Linked DNA regions of Homo sapiens: region 1 is linked to region 2. The links come from fine-mapping of genetic effects on gene expression. A gene starts in region 2. The other region holds a variant in brackets. All regions are shown on one strand. Distances are from middle to middle. Region 1 holds the start of LOC101929439 (a long non-coding RNA gene). Region 2 holds the start of ETFA (electron transfer flavoprotein subunit alpha).

Evidence for each region.
Region 1: its variant is fine-mapped to the expression of ETFA in nasal epithelium (TOPMed, PIP above 0.99). The same link has a PIP of 0.9 or more in tibial artery.

What each region holds. Positions count from the first base shown.
Region 1 is chr15:76,175,645-76,183,973 of GRCh38, forward strand. It overlaps TMEM266 (transmembrane protein 266), which reads left to right. Exons shown (of 11, transcript NM_152335.5): 8 at 1-30. It overlaps LOC101929439 (a long non-coding RNA gene), which reads right to left and starts at 5,842. Exons shown (of 3, transcript NR_120360.1): 1 at 5,308-5,842; 2 at 2,902-3,140; 3 at 1-826. RefSeq lists enhancers at 5,933-5,982, 6,193-6,242. The variant G/C (reference allele first, on the strand shown) is at 3,248.
Region 2 is chr15:76,306,393-76,314,721 of GRCh38, forward strand. It overlaps ETFA (electron transfer flavoprotein subunit alpha), which reads right to left and starts at 5,077. Exons shown (of 12, transcript NM_000126.4): 1 at 4,958-5,077. The coding sequence starts at 4,996. RefSeq lists enhancers at 4,329-4,829, 4,830-5,330, 5,540-5,589, 5,650-5,699 and a cis regulatory region at 7,261-7,682.

The sequences.
Region 1 (8,329 bases), 130 kb before region 2:
AGGCTGACGCAGATCTGTCAGGAGCAAGGGGTAATGCACTGCCACTTTCGGCTCTGTCCGTGGTCTTGCTGGGGACACTGGTAGTGCCTAAAGCCATGGGTTGCTAGAGCTGCAGGGGCACCAGAGGTCAGGGAGTTCCTCCAGCCCCTTGTTGGACTCATGGGGAACCTGAAGCCCAGAGAAGGGGACACATCTCCAGGTTCACTGATGTATAGCCCAGCCAGGCATGGACTCAACCCTGACTCCCAGGCCAGGGTTCTTTCCACTGTAGCACGGTGACTCTTCAGCTCCCCAACCTGAGTCTGCCAAGTCGCCCCCTCAGTTCATCAGAGTCTTCTCGGAGACATGGTCGGTCTCTAAAGCCAGTCGCTAATTCTGTCTGCTGAGGGTTGCTGGGCACCATGGTATGCCCATTGCCACGCGGGACGCCCAGGGCCCCAGAAAGATGCTAGCGGTGCTCTCTACCCTCCAGGAGATGTGATGCAGACTCAGAGAGGCAGGTGGTGGGCCCTGCAAGGATGGGCTCAGCAGAGGCAAGGGGGACTGGCAGCTGGGCCAGGGGCACCCTGTCGGGAATCCAGAGACCTGCATTCAAGGCCTAGCCCTGCTGCTCCCACCCCGCCGGACTCCGGCCAAGTTGGGCCACCCCTCTGCCCTCAGTTCCTTCCTCTGTAAGATGAGGTGGCTGCTCCCATGTGAGTGGGACAGAGGAGTTCAGAGGAGGGGGATTGGGGTACTCAGGAGGGGGTGGCTGCTGGATCCCGCAGCAAGGCTGAGAGCTCTGTAGAAGTGCAGCTCGGTGTGCAGGGAAGGGTCCGGTCCCAGGCTGTAAGGTGGGAATGCTACTGAGGGGACTGGCAAGGTGGTGGGAATGTGGGGGATGGTCCAAATGACATGCATGGTCATTCCCATTCTGCCCGATGGATTCTGGGGAGAGGACAGGGCCACTGCCCCCAGCTGCGCAAGCCAGAGACGCTAAGCCTGTGGCTCTCTGTGCCCAGGGCCAGGCGAGTTCTTCACGGGCTGTCTTCCAGCCCATGTCCTGCCAGTGAAAGTGGAGGAATGCCCGTGGCCGCATATTGATGTGGGCACTGAGCCCTTCTGGCTTGCAGTGCGGTGAGGATGGGCACCCCTGGGCTCCCTATTCCTCCCCCATTGCTGGGTGCCCAGGCAGTCTCCAAGGTGGCCTCAGGGTTGAGGTCTCATGTGGCGTACAGGCCTGCTATGTGTCTGCCCGTCCTATCGACCTCCTCTCTCATGTGTCTGGTGCATAAACACCCCGACTGTGCCAAGTGGAGTCACCTGTCATTTTGACAAGCCCTGTGCCATGCCACCTCTTGGGTTTTGGTTGCGCTGTGCCCCTTGCCTGAATCCCCGCCCCTTGCAAGCTCTGTCTGTCTAATTCAAGTCCTAGCCTCTCTACAGAGCATGTTCCCCCCGCCAGTAGCCTCTGCACCTCCTCCCCCAGCCCTGCAGCAGCCCTCACTTGTCCACATTCACAGGGCACTGGGCACTCACTGCCATGGTCAGTGCTCCTTTATGCCTGGGGCAGCTCTTCCCGCTGAAATAGATGCCCCCTGAAGGCAAGCCTTAGTCCAACTCACATCCGGCCCCAGCCAGCACTCCGCGCGTTGTAGGTCTTGGTCAATGTGTGTTCAGTGTATGTCGTGGGTCTTGGTAAATGTGTATTCTGTTGCGGGTCTTGGTAAATGCATATTCACTGTACCTGTTGGCTCCTCGACCAACCCCAGCCTCTCACAGTTTTGGGGTGGGGGACACGTCTGTGGAATGTCACAACAAAGTGATCCTGGGAAATGTCCCCACAGGAACACGCACACAGTGTCTTCAGAATCATCCCCTCGGAATGTCTGTCAGGAAACCAATCTTTTTATCTGCTTTGGGAACACTATGACCTTTTGTTTCGCACAGAATGCCTATGCGTGACAAGAGGGGTCATCAGGGGACATGGCCCTCAGGGGCACGTTGTCCAAGGTGTCCCGAGAGCAGGGCAGGCTATGGAATCCTAGACTAGGAAGAGAAGCATTCCCTTCCTGAGGAGCTGGCATCAGCTTCATTCATTCTCTTGCCATATCGCGTGGTTAGCCAGCACCGTCCAGAGCTGCTCTGTGCTGGGCTTGTGCCGGGCATGTGGATGCCGCCTAGGACAGGGTGTGACCCTCGTCCTCACGGGGCTCTGGGTGACTCAGGGGGTTTGGCAGCCCATAAATAGGCAGTGGAAATCTGGTGCAATGCCTGTATCACATGGGCACGTCCCGGGCTCTGCAGGCCAGGATGGGGAAGGCTTTCCAGAGGAGCTGATGTGGAGCAGAGCCCTGGGGAGAAGGCTGCCAGGCAGAGGGAACAGTGTGGGGTGTGCGAGTGGGTGCAGTGCCCCCGGGGTTCGGGGCCATTTAGAGGGTGAGCAGAGGGAGGCAGTAGGATTGGGGACAGGCTTGGGAAGGGGCTCTGTGGCTGACCAGAGAGTTTGGGCTTTATCCTGCTGGGACAGAGGAAGCCTGGAGGATTAAAAGCAGGACTGGGGGATCTGCTCAGATGTGAGTTGTTGATGGAGCCTTCTGGCTGCCGTTGGAGGCTGGATGGAGAGGGCAGGGTGGAGACAGGAAGACTGGGGACAGAGGCTGGAGAAGAAGGTGAGAGAAGCTGGGCTTTAGGCAGAGGGGGCTGCAGGGAAGTGGGGAAAGTAAAGTGCAGGGTGTCATCCAGAAAGCGACTGGAAGCCGATCAGGCAGTTCTCATTCTGCTGTTGAACAGGAAAACAAATGCTCTACTTCACTGCAGTTGGCAACGTGAAAGACACGGACACAGGGCTGCATCCGCCCCTCATAAATTCGCAGCCTCCCAGCCCAGCAGGGAACGCGCTGACCCTGCCGCACACCTCACCTCAGCCACACATGCGCCACGTGGCCAGGAGAAAATCCTAACGGCAACCCCACCTCCCAGGGTTTCCACCATGACCTCTGTCCGGAGCCCCCCGGGGACCCCAGGTTCCTGCCGTCCTGGTTCAAGTCACCTCCACATGTGGCCTCCTTCCCGGGGGTCTCAGCCGGAGGGAGACTCCCTTGCATTCTGCACAGGAAAGAGCCAATAAATAAAGACAGATTCCCTCTAGGTAGCGACATCTGGAAAAGAGATGAACAGAAACGAACCATTTTAATTTAAAAAACACCTGAAGCCTGTCATCTTAGTTAAGACAGCAGAAAGGGCCAGACAGGCTGGACTCCCAGTG[G/C]GGCCACCGGGGAGGGTGGGGGCTGCCTGGCCAGAGGGACCAGGAGGGCAGCTCTCCTGGAGTCTGTGGTGCCCACTCCACAGAGCGAAGCAGACAGATGCCTCACTTGCAGCTGTATTTTCAGACCTGGTTTGAGACTTGACTGGGTAACAGATACCCTGGAGGAAATGAGACTGTGGGCCCTGGAATGTCAGAGATGGCTAGACCCTTGGAGACAGCAGCCCATGGAATGGTTGAGAATAGACTTGGTTCTAAATAGACTTTGAGCTGGCTTCGAACCCAGGTGTGTCTCTCTTTAGAACACTTACTGGCCTTGTGGCTTTGGGCATTAATGGGACATCTATGGGCCTTGGTTTTCCTAATCTGAAAAATGGGTGTAGTAATAGAATCCTCGAAGGATGGTGATGAGATCGTAGCCTAAAGCCTGACACATGATGGGTAGCAACTAATGGGTGTGGACCCCGAAGTCCACCAGCCCCACCACACCTGCCCCACACACCCATTTTACAAATAAGAAAACTGAGCAGTGGCAGCTCGCCTTGGGGGCACACAGCTAGTCCAGGGGGGCATAGAACCAGGTGTCCTAACTGTGAACACTGTTCTTTTCCAGCCCATCACGTTGAGCCTCCTTTTTCCTACTCATGGCACTTAGCACTCAGCAAAAACATTGATCAGATTATGCATGGGGTATTTTATACTGCAGGCACAGACCTGGCTCCCCTCAGCTGTCTCAATGGCAGCCCCCAACCCCGTTCCAGGACAGTCTAGTATTCCTTGTGACAAACTCTTGCTGTCTCCTTGCTGGAATTCTCAGAGTATAATGAAGACATTTCCAAACTGAATTCACATATGCTGCCTGAAAAATTGACATTTACCAATGAAATGTGTTAGGGTCCCAGTTTAAATACAACACCTGGCCTGGCGCGATGGCTCACACCTGTAATCCCAGTGCTCTGGAAGGCTGAGGCAGGAGGACTGCTTGAGGCCAGAAGTTTGAGGCTGCAGTGAGCTGTAATGACACCACTGCACTCCAGCCTGGGCCACAGAGCAAGACTGTCTCTAAAACAAAACAAAACAAAACAAAACAAAACGCTTTTCACTCCCTTGCTCTCTTGCTGGGGTGTGTTTGTACAACTATTTCAACTATTTGCCACAACTTCACCCAGCTCTTTTTAAAAAAATAAACTTTATTTTTTAGAACAGTTTTATATTGACCAAAAAATAGTGAAGCAGGTGCAGAGTTCCCTGTATCCCTTGTGCCTGGCTGCCCATCATTAACATCATACACTAGTATCATTTGTTACAATGAACAAACCCACATTGATACGGTACTCAGGTTTTCTTAGTATTTAATCTGTTATGTCCTCTGTTTGCTCCACGTCGCATTCAGTAGGCTTAGGCTCCTCCTGGCTGTGGCAATTTCTCAGACTTTGTTTCTGATGACCTGAAGGGTTTTGGGGAGCACTGGTCGGGTGTTTTTGTTTTACAGGATGCCCCTCTGTTGGGATTCGTCTGATGTTTTTCCCAGGGTAAGCCTGGGGTTGTGGGTTTTGGGAGGAAGACTGCAGAAGGAAAGTGCCATTCTTATTGTCTCACATCAAGAGGACACACTGGCCACGTGACTTCTCACTGTGATGCGGCCTGGATCACCCGGCTGGGGCAGCGTGGGTCAGGTGTCTCCACTGCACAGTTACTCTCTGTTTCTTCATCTTAAGCTTTTTTTTTTTTTTTTTTTTTTTTGGAACAGAGTCTCACTCTGTCACCCAGGCTGGAGTGTAGTGGCGCCATCTTGGCTCACTGCAACCTCCACCTCCTGGGTTCAAGAGATTCTCCTGCCTCAGCTTCCCGGGTAGCTGGGATTACAGGCACCTGCCACCATGCCCAGCTAATTTTTGTATTTTTAGTAGAGACGGGGTTTCACCATGTTGACCAGGCTGGTCTCAAACTCCTGACCTCAGGTGATCCACCCGCCTCACCCTCCCAAAGTGCTGTGATTACAGGCATGAGCCACCGCACCCAGCCCATCTTAACTTTTTAAGAAAGATTACATTGCTTCTTACCGTGACCCTGTGGAGACTCTCAGGTGAGCCTGTTGGCCAGTTTCTTGCATGAATATCTGATTCATTTCACCTTCTGTGCTACATGGCAGTTCATTTCTTGTCACAGGCCCACATGCAAGGTGCTCCAGAATCACCTTATATAACAGATGAAAGGTCCCTGGGGAGGGCAGCTGGCCCAATCCAGGATTTGGCAGATGGGGCATCTGAGGCTCAGAGAAAGGGAGAGGTGGGCCCAACGTGGCACAGCAGTTATGAGGCCAGGACGAAAACAGGTCTCTTGTTGCTCATTCCAGTGCCTTCCCTCCTGGATCACACTGGCCCTCTGGCTTTGACAGGGAAACAGGCTTCACTGCTTCCCTCATTCCTATGATCTCTTCTGGTTGTGGACACACCTCATGCTTAACAGATTCCTACTTGGGGAGGGGTGCCTAGAGGATCCCGGGAGGGGAGGAGGTCTCTCTGCTGGTCAGTCATACCATTCCAAAGCCCTGGCCATGCCTTCTGCAGTCCCTTCCAGACTCCCCGCTGCTGTGATAGAAGCACATGGCTTCTGACCCCTGAATTCAGCAATTCCTCAATTCCTTAGGTGGAAGTTCTTTTCCATTCTTTTTGTTTGTTTGTTTGTTTTTGGTGAGGGGTGGATCTTGGCCAGAATTTCATGACGAGTTAGGCTCGCTGGTACACAGATGGAGTCCAAAGTCACGATGCTAGAGGCTGCCCTTCAGAGAGACGGTGTGGATGCCTTGTCTCTCTCTCTGTCTTGGCTGCTTCAGAAACCAAAGCCATTTTAGATGCAGCAGTTAAATCAATGCAACGATATACTCTTCTGACTCATCTCACGAAACCACCTCTGAGGTTTTATGTACCTCCATGCGTGGGATCTCGCTCTAGTTCCGAAACACATTCTGAAGTCTCCGTTACACCCGCTCTTTCATGTTTAAGCCTGGTAACAGCTTTTGGTACAAAATAGTATGATCTGACCTGGCCCACTGTGGAAGTTAGTTTCTCTTCTCTGACGTTCTGCTTCCTCAGCACCATTCACCCTGAGATCATTGGCAAAATACTGAGGGATATGAGGCTCAATCCGGGGTGACTCAAGGTCCAGCCTCCAAGGAGACCAGTGGGACCTGTGAGCCCCTTAGGACATCCTTAGACCTTGGGAAAGGTGAGTCCCTTGTCGGGGAGCTTGGAGGAGTGGAAAGAATCCTCTTATTCGGGGAGCCAGCAAGCCAGATTCAAACCTCAGCCCCACCAGTGACCAGTCATCTTCCCTTTAACCCCTGAGCCTCAGCTTCTCATTGGGGAAATTGGAGGTAACAAGGCCTACATCGTGTGGATGCCATATGCATCAAATTAAATCTGGCCTGCTGGAGGCTTTCAGTAAGGGTTAAAAAAAAGAGAGAGGTCGGGTGCGGTGGCTCACACCTGTAATCCTAGCACTTTGGGAGGCCGAGGCGGGCAGATCACGAGGTCAGGAGGTCGAGACCATCCTGGCTAACACGGTGAAACCCCGTCTCTACTAAAAAAAAATATATATAAAAAATTAGCCCGGTGTGGTGGCGGGTGCCTGTGGTCCCAGCTACTCAGGAGGCTGAGGCAGGAGAATGGCATGAACCTGGGAGGCAGAGCTTAAAGTGAGCCGAGATCATGCCACTGCACTCCAGCCTGGGTGACAGAGCGAGACTCAGTCACAAAAAAACAAAACAAAACAAAACAAAAAAAACTACTAAATGTATCTATATGATGGTTGCTCATTCACAAATGCACTGTCATGTTTTAGCTCATTTTTCCTTTGCTGGTGAAAGTTGGCAGGCTGGGTACTATTAATCCCTTCACATGGAAAGACTGAGGCTCAGAGAGGCTATTCTTTGGCCAGATCCTGTAGTTTTTCATGGAGGGACTAGGAAAGAAACCCAGGGCTTCAGTGTCCATTTCCCTGCGCCAGAAAGAGGCATCTGCCTGAGTCACTGATAGTTAGGGTGAGTAACACCAGTTGTTGCATCCAGCAAATCCAGAAATCTGAGTCCTGACACAGGAGGAGTACATTTGTCACTCTCATCATACTCCAATGCAGGTTGCAATGGGGCAGGGTGGAGGGACCCTCTGTTCCACACAAGTCACTCAGGCCTCCAGGCTGCTTCCATTTTGTGGCTTTTTTTTTTTTTTTTTTTTTTTTTTTTTTGAGATGGAGTCTCGCTCTGTGGCCCAGGCTGGAGTGCAGTGACATGATCTCGGCTCACTGCAACCTCTGCCTCCTGGGTTCAAGCGATTCTCCTGCCTCAACCTCCCGAGTAGCTGGGATTACAGGCATGTGTCACCACCCCTGGCTAATTTTTGTATTTTTAGTAGAGATGGGGTTTCACCATGTTGGCCAGGCTGGTCTCGAACTCCTGACCTCAAGTGATCCACCCACCTCGGCCTCCCAAAGTGCAGGGATTACAGGTGGGAGCCACCAAGCCCGGCCGATCCTTCTTCCTCCAAGTCCTCGGAGTCTTCTCCAGTCAGTGGATAGGAAAGTGAGGCTGGGGAATTGGGCACAGCAGGTTTTTATTGGCCAGGACTGAAAATGGTGATATTGCTCTGCCCCCGTTTTATTGGCAAGAGTCAGTTGCACAGTACCAACTAGGGGCACCAGATGCTGTCAGAAGTGGTCTTTGTGCCCAAGAAGAAAACAGTCGCCTGCACAGTCACCCAACCCATAAAACAAGGCCAATGGGCTCACAACATTCCCTACCCTTTCCCCGGTTCCACCACAGCAGGCGGCACAGCCACACTTATCAAAGTCCTTCCTGGGGGAATGCCATGCCTCCCTGGCCTGTTTTCCTGAAGAAACAAGATGATAATCTTGACCCTGCAAGCTGTAGGCATTTCTGATGGAGGAAGATGTGAGGAGAGGAAGCTGTCACGCCCCCCCTCCATCCCCTTCGCTGTCTTTCACGTGGAGGAACCGGAGCAGACGTGGGAGGTGGTGGGTGGTCTGATTGGGAGCCAGGGCCCATCTCCCCATCCAGGCCTCTCGCTG
Region 2 (8,329 bases):
AGTAGCTGGGATTACAGGCACGCACCACCACACCCAGCTAATTTTTGTATTTTTAGTAGAGACGGGTTTCACCATGTTGGTCAGGCTAATCTCAAACTCCTGACCTCGTGATCCACCCACCTCAGCCTCCCAAAGTGCTGGGATTACAGACATGAGCCACTGCACCCAGCCGGTTTTTTTGCTTCTTAATTAAAAAAAGAAAAACAGCAAGAATAAGCTATAAAATCTTTCTGAGTCATACCCAAAAGGATAATATATAAAGTCACCTATCCCTATTTTAACATACATTTTGTAATTTTTAAAATGTATATTTCTGTACTTTAAATACTTCCTTTAATCCTTTTAGTAATAAAATATAGCAGCTTTTAATCATGACCAGAAATGTTATATGACATTGACTGTAATACTAAAAACACAGTCAATTTACTTCACTTTAAGAAAGGACAAGACTCTTAGTAGACACATTGGCAGGCATCATAATTTTACTGAATTCACCTTATGCAATAAATTTTCTTTTAGAATCACACCAAAATTGGCTCTCTTTCTTCTTTCAATAGAAATTAAAATTTGCATGCAAATTACAGAGTTCAATCTTATTCATCAATACTAGACAGAAAAGTGTCATGTTCCTTCACACCAGTTTCATAGCTTCTCAGTCCTGATAGATATTCCTTCCCACCTGACAATAAACACAGTAAAAAGAGTACTCAAATGACCTTGAAATTGTTGTTTCACTCACCACATAAATATTTTTCTGCATCTTCTTATTCTTCAATAAATCAATTTCAAGAGCAAATTAATAAATAACAATAATTAGGATTAATATCCCTGCAAGAATATTAACTAACTGCAAATGCCTACCTATTTGCCTCTTGGTGTGTTCTCTAGCTCTTTATTATAGATATAAAAACTATCTTTGTTAACAGATGACTTTAAAGACCATTGCCACACACATAAGGATGAAAGACTTTACTCAATGGCACAAATCAGTCAGAACTAAAAATGGAACTTAGATACCAAATGCAAGTCATTGAACTTATATCCTAATAGTTTAACAAAGTGGTTTAAAAGAATACATAAAATTTACCATCTTAACCTTTTTTTTTTTTTTTGAAACAGCGTCTCACTCTGTTGCCCAGGCCGGAGGGCAGTGGTGCTACCTGGGCTCAATGCAGCCTCAAATGCCCAGGTTCAAGCAAGTCTCGTGCCTCAGCCTCCCAAGTAGCTGGGACTACAGGTGTGAACCATGGCGCCTGGCTAATTTTTTTTTTGGTAGAGATGGGGTTTCGCCATGTTGCGCAGGCTGGTCTCGAACTCCTGAGCTCAGGTGATCCATCTGCCTCAGCCTCCCAAAGTGCTGGGATTACAGGTGTCAGCCACCATGGTTGGCCCCATCTTAACCATTTTTAAGTGTTAAGTGTTAACTATATGCACATCGTTAACAGTTTATGGTAATCTTTTAACTGTAATTCCTAACTTTATTTTTTTAAATATGGTTTTGGAAATGTATCCTCTTCCTAAATGCATTAATGGTTAGCTACAGAACATTTTTTTTTTAATTTCAAGAGTGGGGACTTGAGATAAGCTATTTTGACTTTGTGATATCACAAACATATATATGTAAACAAACAGGAGTCAGATTGAATGGGCCCCACTTTACAAACATGAGACAACTTCAGCATAAGGTAGAAATGTATTATCCTAAATAAGGATCCATGTATCCATAAATCCATAAATATGCAAGAAGATAATGTTCTTCCTTATAGTAGAATAACTAAAAAATGTACGAAGGTATCATGGAAATAGAAAATCACCATTTTGCATCATAGTAATCATTTCTCAGGCAAAAATCATCAACAGATGCTAAGACTGGGTAAAAGTCTGATGAGAAATAGGACAGTCACATAGTCTCAATGAATCGCCTCACAAATTAGTTAAAAATTACAAAAGGAGGAGTATTAACTTGACAGTGGAGAAACCTGGCAAACAACACTTTGGCTAAGTAACTAAAGTCAGCATTACCACTAATGGGATAAACCAACATTAAGTACCTGCTAATATGATGCACGGGGAACACAATACCACTTTTGTGATATTCCCACCAAGAATACATGACCTGAATCTAATCATGAGGAAACACCAGACAAACCCAAATTGAGTGACAGTCTGGAAAATAGAAGGCCTGTACTCTTCAAATACACCAATGTCATCAAACCCAAAGGAAGGCTGAGGAACCTTTCTAACAGAGTAAAGAGACATGAAAACCACTTGCAGGACATCTAGAGTATCTTAGACCAGAATAAGGAAAATTGCTATAAACTGTACTAATGGGACAACTGGCAAAATTGAACATCCATAGATTAGAAAACAGTATTTTATGGTGAAACTTCCAGATATTGCCAATTACAGTGTAGTTAGAAAGTGAACCTCTTTGTTCTTTTAAAATATCACTCAATTATTTAGGAGTAAAGGGCACATTTGCAACATACTTTCAAATGGTTCAGAAAGATAGTATTATGTATATATGTGGAAAGATAAAGCAAATGTGTCAAACTGCTAACATGCTGGGAAAACCAGGGGAAGGGTTTTGAGATTTCTTTGTACTATTCTTGCAACTTTTCTATAAGTGCAACTATTTCAAAATTTAAAAAGTTAAATACAGGTATATGTCCCTATTAATATATGGGTCCACTTTAGAAGTGTTGCCACCATTTCTTTTATGCTAGAAATCCAAATCTCTCCAACATTCTTAATGACTTTAAAACAGCTATTCTAGGCTGGGCGCGGTGGCTCACGCCTGTAATCCCAGCACTTTGGGAGGCCAAGGCGGGCGGATCATGAGGTCAGGAGATCGAGACCATACCGGCTAACACAGTGAAACCCCCGTCTCTACTAAAAATACAAAAAAATTAGCGGGGCGTGGTGGCGGGTACCTGTAGTCCCAGCTACTCAGGAGGCTGAGGCAGGAGAATGGCGTGAACCCGGGAGGCGGAGCTTGCAGTGAGCTGAGATCGCGCCACTGCACTCCAGCCTGGGCGACAGAGCGAGACTCCGTCTCAAAACAAACAAACAAACAAACAAAAAAAACAGCTATTCTACTTAGCTTGACTTCAAATTTTAAAAATAAGTCAAGGTCAAAGTCTTTGGCAAACCACAATGAATATCTGGAAGTAATGTCTATACACATTAGCCAACGATGTGGATAGTAAAAATTACTTAATCATTCCATTTTTTTCTGTTAGCTCTACAAAATTACTGAGTCCTAAATTCCATCCCCCACCACAATTATAATTTCACTTAGGCCAGACTTGTAATCTGTCCACAAAACTGTTTTCCAACTGCTGCATAGAGCAGCATTCTTCTGGCTCAGGTTCCTGGAATTTCCCCAAATTCATGATTTTCACTTGTTTATGTCTAGATCCCCAACCGGGAGAAAACATGTCCTGAGGGGAAGACAGGACACTAACCTGAAAGACATGGGTTTGAACTCTTTAGGGGAGGGGAGGGTCAGAACTTTTTATTAAACAAGGAATACGCACAAGAAAAAAGATGTCTAAGGCCAGGTGCGGTAGCTCAGGCCTGTAATTCCAGGACTTTGGGAGGCCGAGGCAGGTGGATCACTTGAGGACAAGAGTTCGAGACCAGCCTGGGTAACATGGGGAAACCCCGTCTCTACAAAAAAAAAAAAAAAAAAAAAAAAAAAATTAGCCAGGCGTGATGATGCGCACCTGTGATCCCAGCTTCTCGGGAAGCTGAGGTGGGAGAATCGCTTGAACCTGGGAGGCGACGGTTGCAGTGAGCCCATATCGTGCCACTGCACTCCACTCCAGCATGGGAAACAGAGCCAGACCTTGTCTCTTAAACAAACAAACAAACAAACAAACAAAAGTCTAATGTCTACAGACATCTAGAAAGAGCTCCAGCTATGCCTCAGAGAGAAAAATCCCAGGAGTGGATGGGAAAATATCCATGCCCAGAAAAAAAAAAAAAAAAAAAAAAAGGAGAAAAGGTACAAACCATCAGGTAAGTTTCTGACCCAAGTTTACCAATCTTGTTTCTCATTTCACCTAAATGTAAACTAGGAAAACTACACAATCCACAATATAAATTATTGTTACTTGACTTGTGACTGGTCAGTCTCCAAATACTCCTTTCCCACAGCATGAGAAGGAAAATATGTTTCCTATCAGTCCTTCTCACAACAGAAGAGAGAAATGTGGTTTGTCACTAATGAAACACTGAAAATGTACCACTGTCACCAGTTAACCTAATCTACAATCTGCTGGTTAAAAGCAGGTCAGCCTGAAGCATATAAAAAGACGTCTGCCTTTCAAAACTGGCTAAAGCTGTCAAATCGGATCGCAGGTTTTACAAATACAATCACCTAAATTCAGCCCTGCTCCATAAACCAGAAAGCAGAACCAGCTTCCATAACTGGCCACGCAGCCTCCCACCCCACCCCACCCCCGCCCTTGACAGTGAGTGGGTCGGAGTAGCCACGATGCGCCCAAAGTGTTTAATTCTTCCAGAAATGCCGGCCTCCGGGAGGAATCTAGGTTTGAAACTTTCCCCAACAGGGCATTCCCCGGTGACATTTTGCTCCCTCGGGTGTGGAGCAAGTGTGGAGGACCTGGCGGCCCGAAAGTGCCCAGAGTGACCGACAAAGGTGGGAAACGGCAGGGCAGAGAGTGGGCCAGAAGAAGGGGCAGCAGACGCGCAAATTCACATCATTCGGGGTCACCCTGACCCCAAACCTCTGACTTCTGCCCCGAACTGGCGTTCCGCAGGGAGTCCAGGGTAGGCCCCAGAACTTTGGACCCAAGTCCCAGGCGGGGACCGGCCTGCGGGCGCGAGGGCTGGTCGAATCTGAGGGGGCCAGTGATCTTTGCAAGACCCCATAGGGACGGCGGGTTGACGGGGGGCCGTCCCTGGGTTCGCCTTCCCAGTCCGGACTCACCGCCCGCCGGAGCTGCCCCGGAGCCGCCGCTCGGAACATGGTCTCCGCTTCCGCCGCAACCTCGGCCTTACAGCAGCCCCGTGCCCGGCCAACTGGCGCCGCCTCAGCCAGTCACCTAATGCTCGCGAGACGCGCGAACGAGATAAGACGCCCTAGGCCGGGAGCACGAGCCCGCGGTTTCCGCCTGCCCATTGGGCGGCTGCGCAGCCAATAGACGGCGGGAAGTTAGGGGCTAGACTGGGAAGTGGGGCAAAGGTGAGGCTATTCCCCGGGGACCTTCGAGTAAGCCCGGGCCGCGGAGCGGCAGAGACAAAGCTGGCCACCCGCTGATGACCGAGCTCAGACTGTACTGTCTCACAGCCCCGCAATGGTCAGCACTGCTAGAGTGAACTTCAAAACTGAGCTGACCTCGGGGTAAGGTACGAGTGGAGCCTTGCCAATTCCAATTAGATACCTTTCCTATATGCCCCTATTTCCCCCTGTATTTCCCCATGGTAGCAATTGTCACATGGGTTGTAATAACCTAAGTACTTGTCTGTGTCACCCATCTGACTGAAGATCTGTAAGGGCAGAAAGTATGCCCTTTTTTTTTTTTTTTTTTTTGAGAGAGAGAGAGTCTCCCTCTGTCACCCTGGCTGGAGTGCAGTGGCGCGAGCTCAGCTCACTGAAAGCTCCGCCTCCCGGGTTCACTCCATTCTTCTGCCTCAGCCTCCCGAGTAGCTGGGACTACAGGCGCCCGCCACCACGCCCAGCTAATTTTTTTGTATTTTTAGTAGAGACGGGGTTTCACAGTGTTAGGCAGGATGGTCTCGATCTCCTGACCTCGTGATCCGCCCGCCTCGGACTCCCAAAGTGCTGGGATTACAGGCGTGAGCCACCGCGCCCGGCCAGTATGCCCTACTTTTAAATTTTGTGTCTACCTGCAACACCTAGCACAATGCCTGGTCCATACTAGGCATTCAATCAGTATGTGTTGAATGAATAAGCAAATGAATAAATGACTGCTAATGAGTCTGGACTTTAACACGAAATTTTTAAGAGGGAAGTGGTATGTTCAGAAATTGTCTCAATTCCCAATTCAGCAACAACCTACCTTTCCAATGTTATCTAGTCTATCAACAAATCCCGTTGACTCTACCTTCAAAAGATAACCAGAATCCAGCAATATCCTCCAACACCCCTTTGCTCCTCTGCTGGTATCACCTTCACTCAGGACCCTGTCCTCTCTCGCCTGGATCATTGCAAAGCCTCCTAACTGGTCTTTCTGTTTCTGCCCATGTTTCCAGAAGCCTCTTCTCCAAACTGATGGACTGATCATGACCTCTGCTCAAAGCCCTATGGTGGCTCCCTCTCCTCCCACTGCCCTCTTCTCTCACTGTTCCCCAGATACATAGGCCTTCTTGAGCACACAAGCCTGCTCCTCTCAGAGTTTTGCACTCTGGCTCTTCCCTCTGCCTGAAATGGCCTTCTCTTGTTACCCGCGTGGCGTACTTCCTCACTTCATTCAGGTCTCTGCTCAAAAAACACATTTGCAGAAAGGCCGGCCTTAGCCTCTCCACCTAAAATAGCACCCATGCCACTCCCAGACGCCCTATCACCTTGTTTGATTTTTTTTCTTGGCATTTATCACTGCCTAACAGGATGCACATGTTTGTTTATTGCTGATCTCACTGCATTGGAGTGTAAATTCCCTGAAGCAAGAGCTTTGTCTGAACTAACAAGCACTCTAAGGGCCTTGCGCTTTTGCTCTTCCCTCTGTCTGAAATTCCCTTCCCCATCTGACAGCCCTCTTTAAAACCCAGATCAAGTGACAATTCTTTTGTTCTGTTTAAGACAAGGTCTCACTCTGTTTCCCAGGCTGGAGTGCGGTGGTGCCATCACAGCTCACTGCAGTCTCGAACTCCTGGGATCAAGCAATCTTCCTGCCTCAGCCTCCCAAGTAGCTGGGACTACAGTCATGTGCCACCATGCCCAGCTATTTTTTTTTGTAGGGGCAGGGTTACCCAGGGCTGGTCTCGAACTCCTGGCCTCAAGTGATCTTCCCACCTTGGCCTCTCAAAGTACTGGGATTACAGACATGAGCCACCACGCCTGGCCCAAGTGACATTTCTTTTGTAAGCTCTTTCTCAATTCTGCAGGATGAATTAATCCTTTCCTCTTCTTCACTCTTGTAGCTCTATGAACAAGGAGGTGAGGACCCATCTTAAACTTAAGTTGCACCCACTTCGAACACGTCTGAACTCATGTTGCCGACAGAGCTGTGGACCCCTGTCCCCCAGTCAATCTGCCTGTGGGAGGGGCAATTTAGTATTCCATGTCTCACTGCATTTACCTCCTAACCAGTCCCACACTGGACTAGAATCTGAGACCTATGGGAGTGGAAGGAAGAGGGAAGGGTACTTTTAGTAAAAACAGAAAAGGATATTTTACTAAAAACCATATAAAAAACTGGGATACAAACTAACCTCCTTCCCTACCTCCCCACCCATGACAAAGCGAAATACAAGGGGAGAGCGGCTGCCCCGCCCTGCCCCCACTGGGCAGATTCAACAGCTCCCAGGCTTGGGCAAATCAGCAGCAGCTGTTCACCCCAGAGTCTCGTTGCCCCTGGGGGTTCCTGGTGGAGCAGTTCAGAGCAGAGGGAGAGGCTAAAAATGGGCAAAGTCTGTGACACCTGACCAGACCTGTTCTGATCACACATGAAACGCCCCCTGAGGCTTTGGGATGTATCAGGGTTCTACAATCACAACCAGGTTATGTACCACAGAAATGTGTGTGCTAAGACATTTCTATTAGAAGATTTTCCCTAGAGGCATATGACTTTCCCACTCCATTAGGAGCCGCTTTGGTGGCAGGACCTATGGTTTCCTTTTATTTACTTATTTTTATTTTATTTATTTTGGAGACGGAGTCTCACTCTGTCACCCAGGCTGGAGTGCAGTGGCGCGATCTCGGCTCACTGCAACCTCCACCTCCCCTCAGTTTCAATGGATTCTCTTGCCTTAGGCTCCCAAGTAGCTGGAATTACAGGTGCCCACCACCATGCCCAGCTAATTTTTGTATTTTTAGTAGAGATGGGGTTTCACCATGTTGGTCAGGCTGGTCTCAAAGCCCTGACCTCAGGTGATCTGCCTGCCGTGGCCTCCCAAAGTGCTGGGATTACAGGCGTGAGCCACCGTGTCCAGCCTATTTATTTGCTTCTTATTTTTAGATGTTCAGCAAACATTTGTAGAAATATGTGTCCAATGGGCTAGGTGCAATGGCTCACACCTGTAATCCTAGCAATTTGGGAGGCCGAGGCGGGCGGATCACTTGAGGTCAGGAGTTCAAGACCAGCCTGGTCAACATGGCGAGACCCTCCCCCCACCTTCA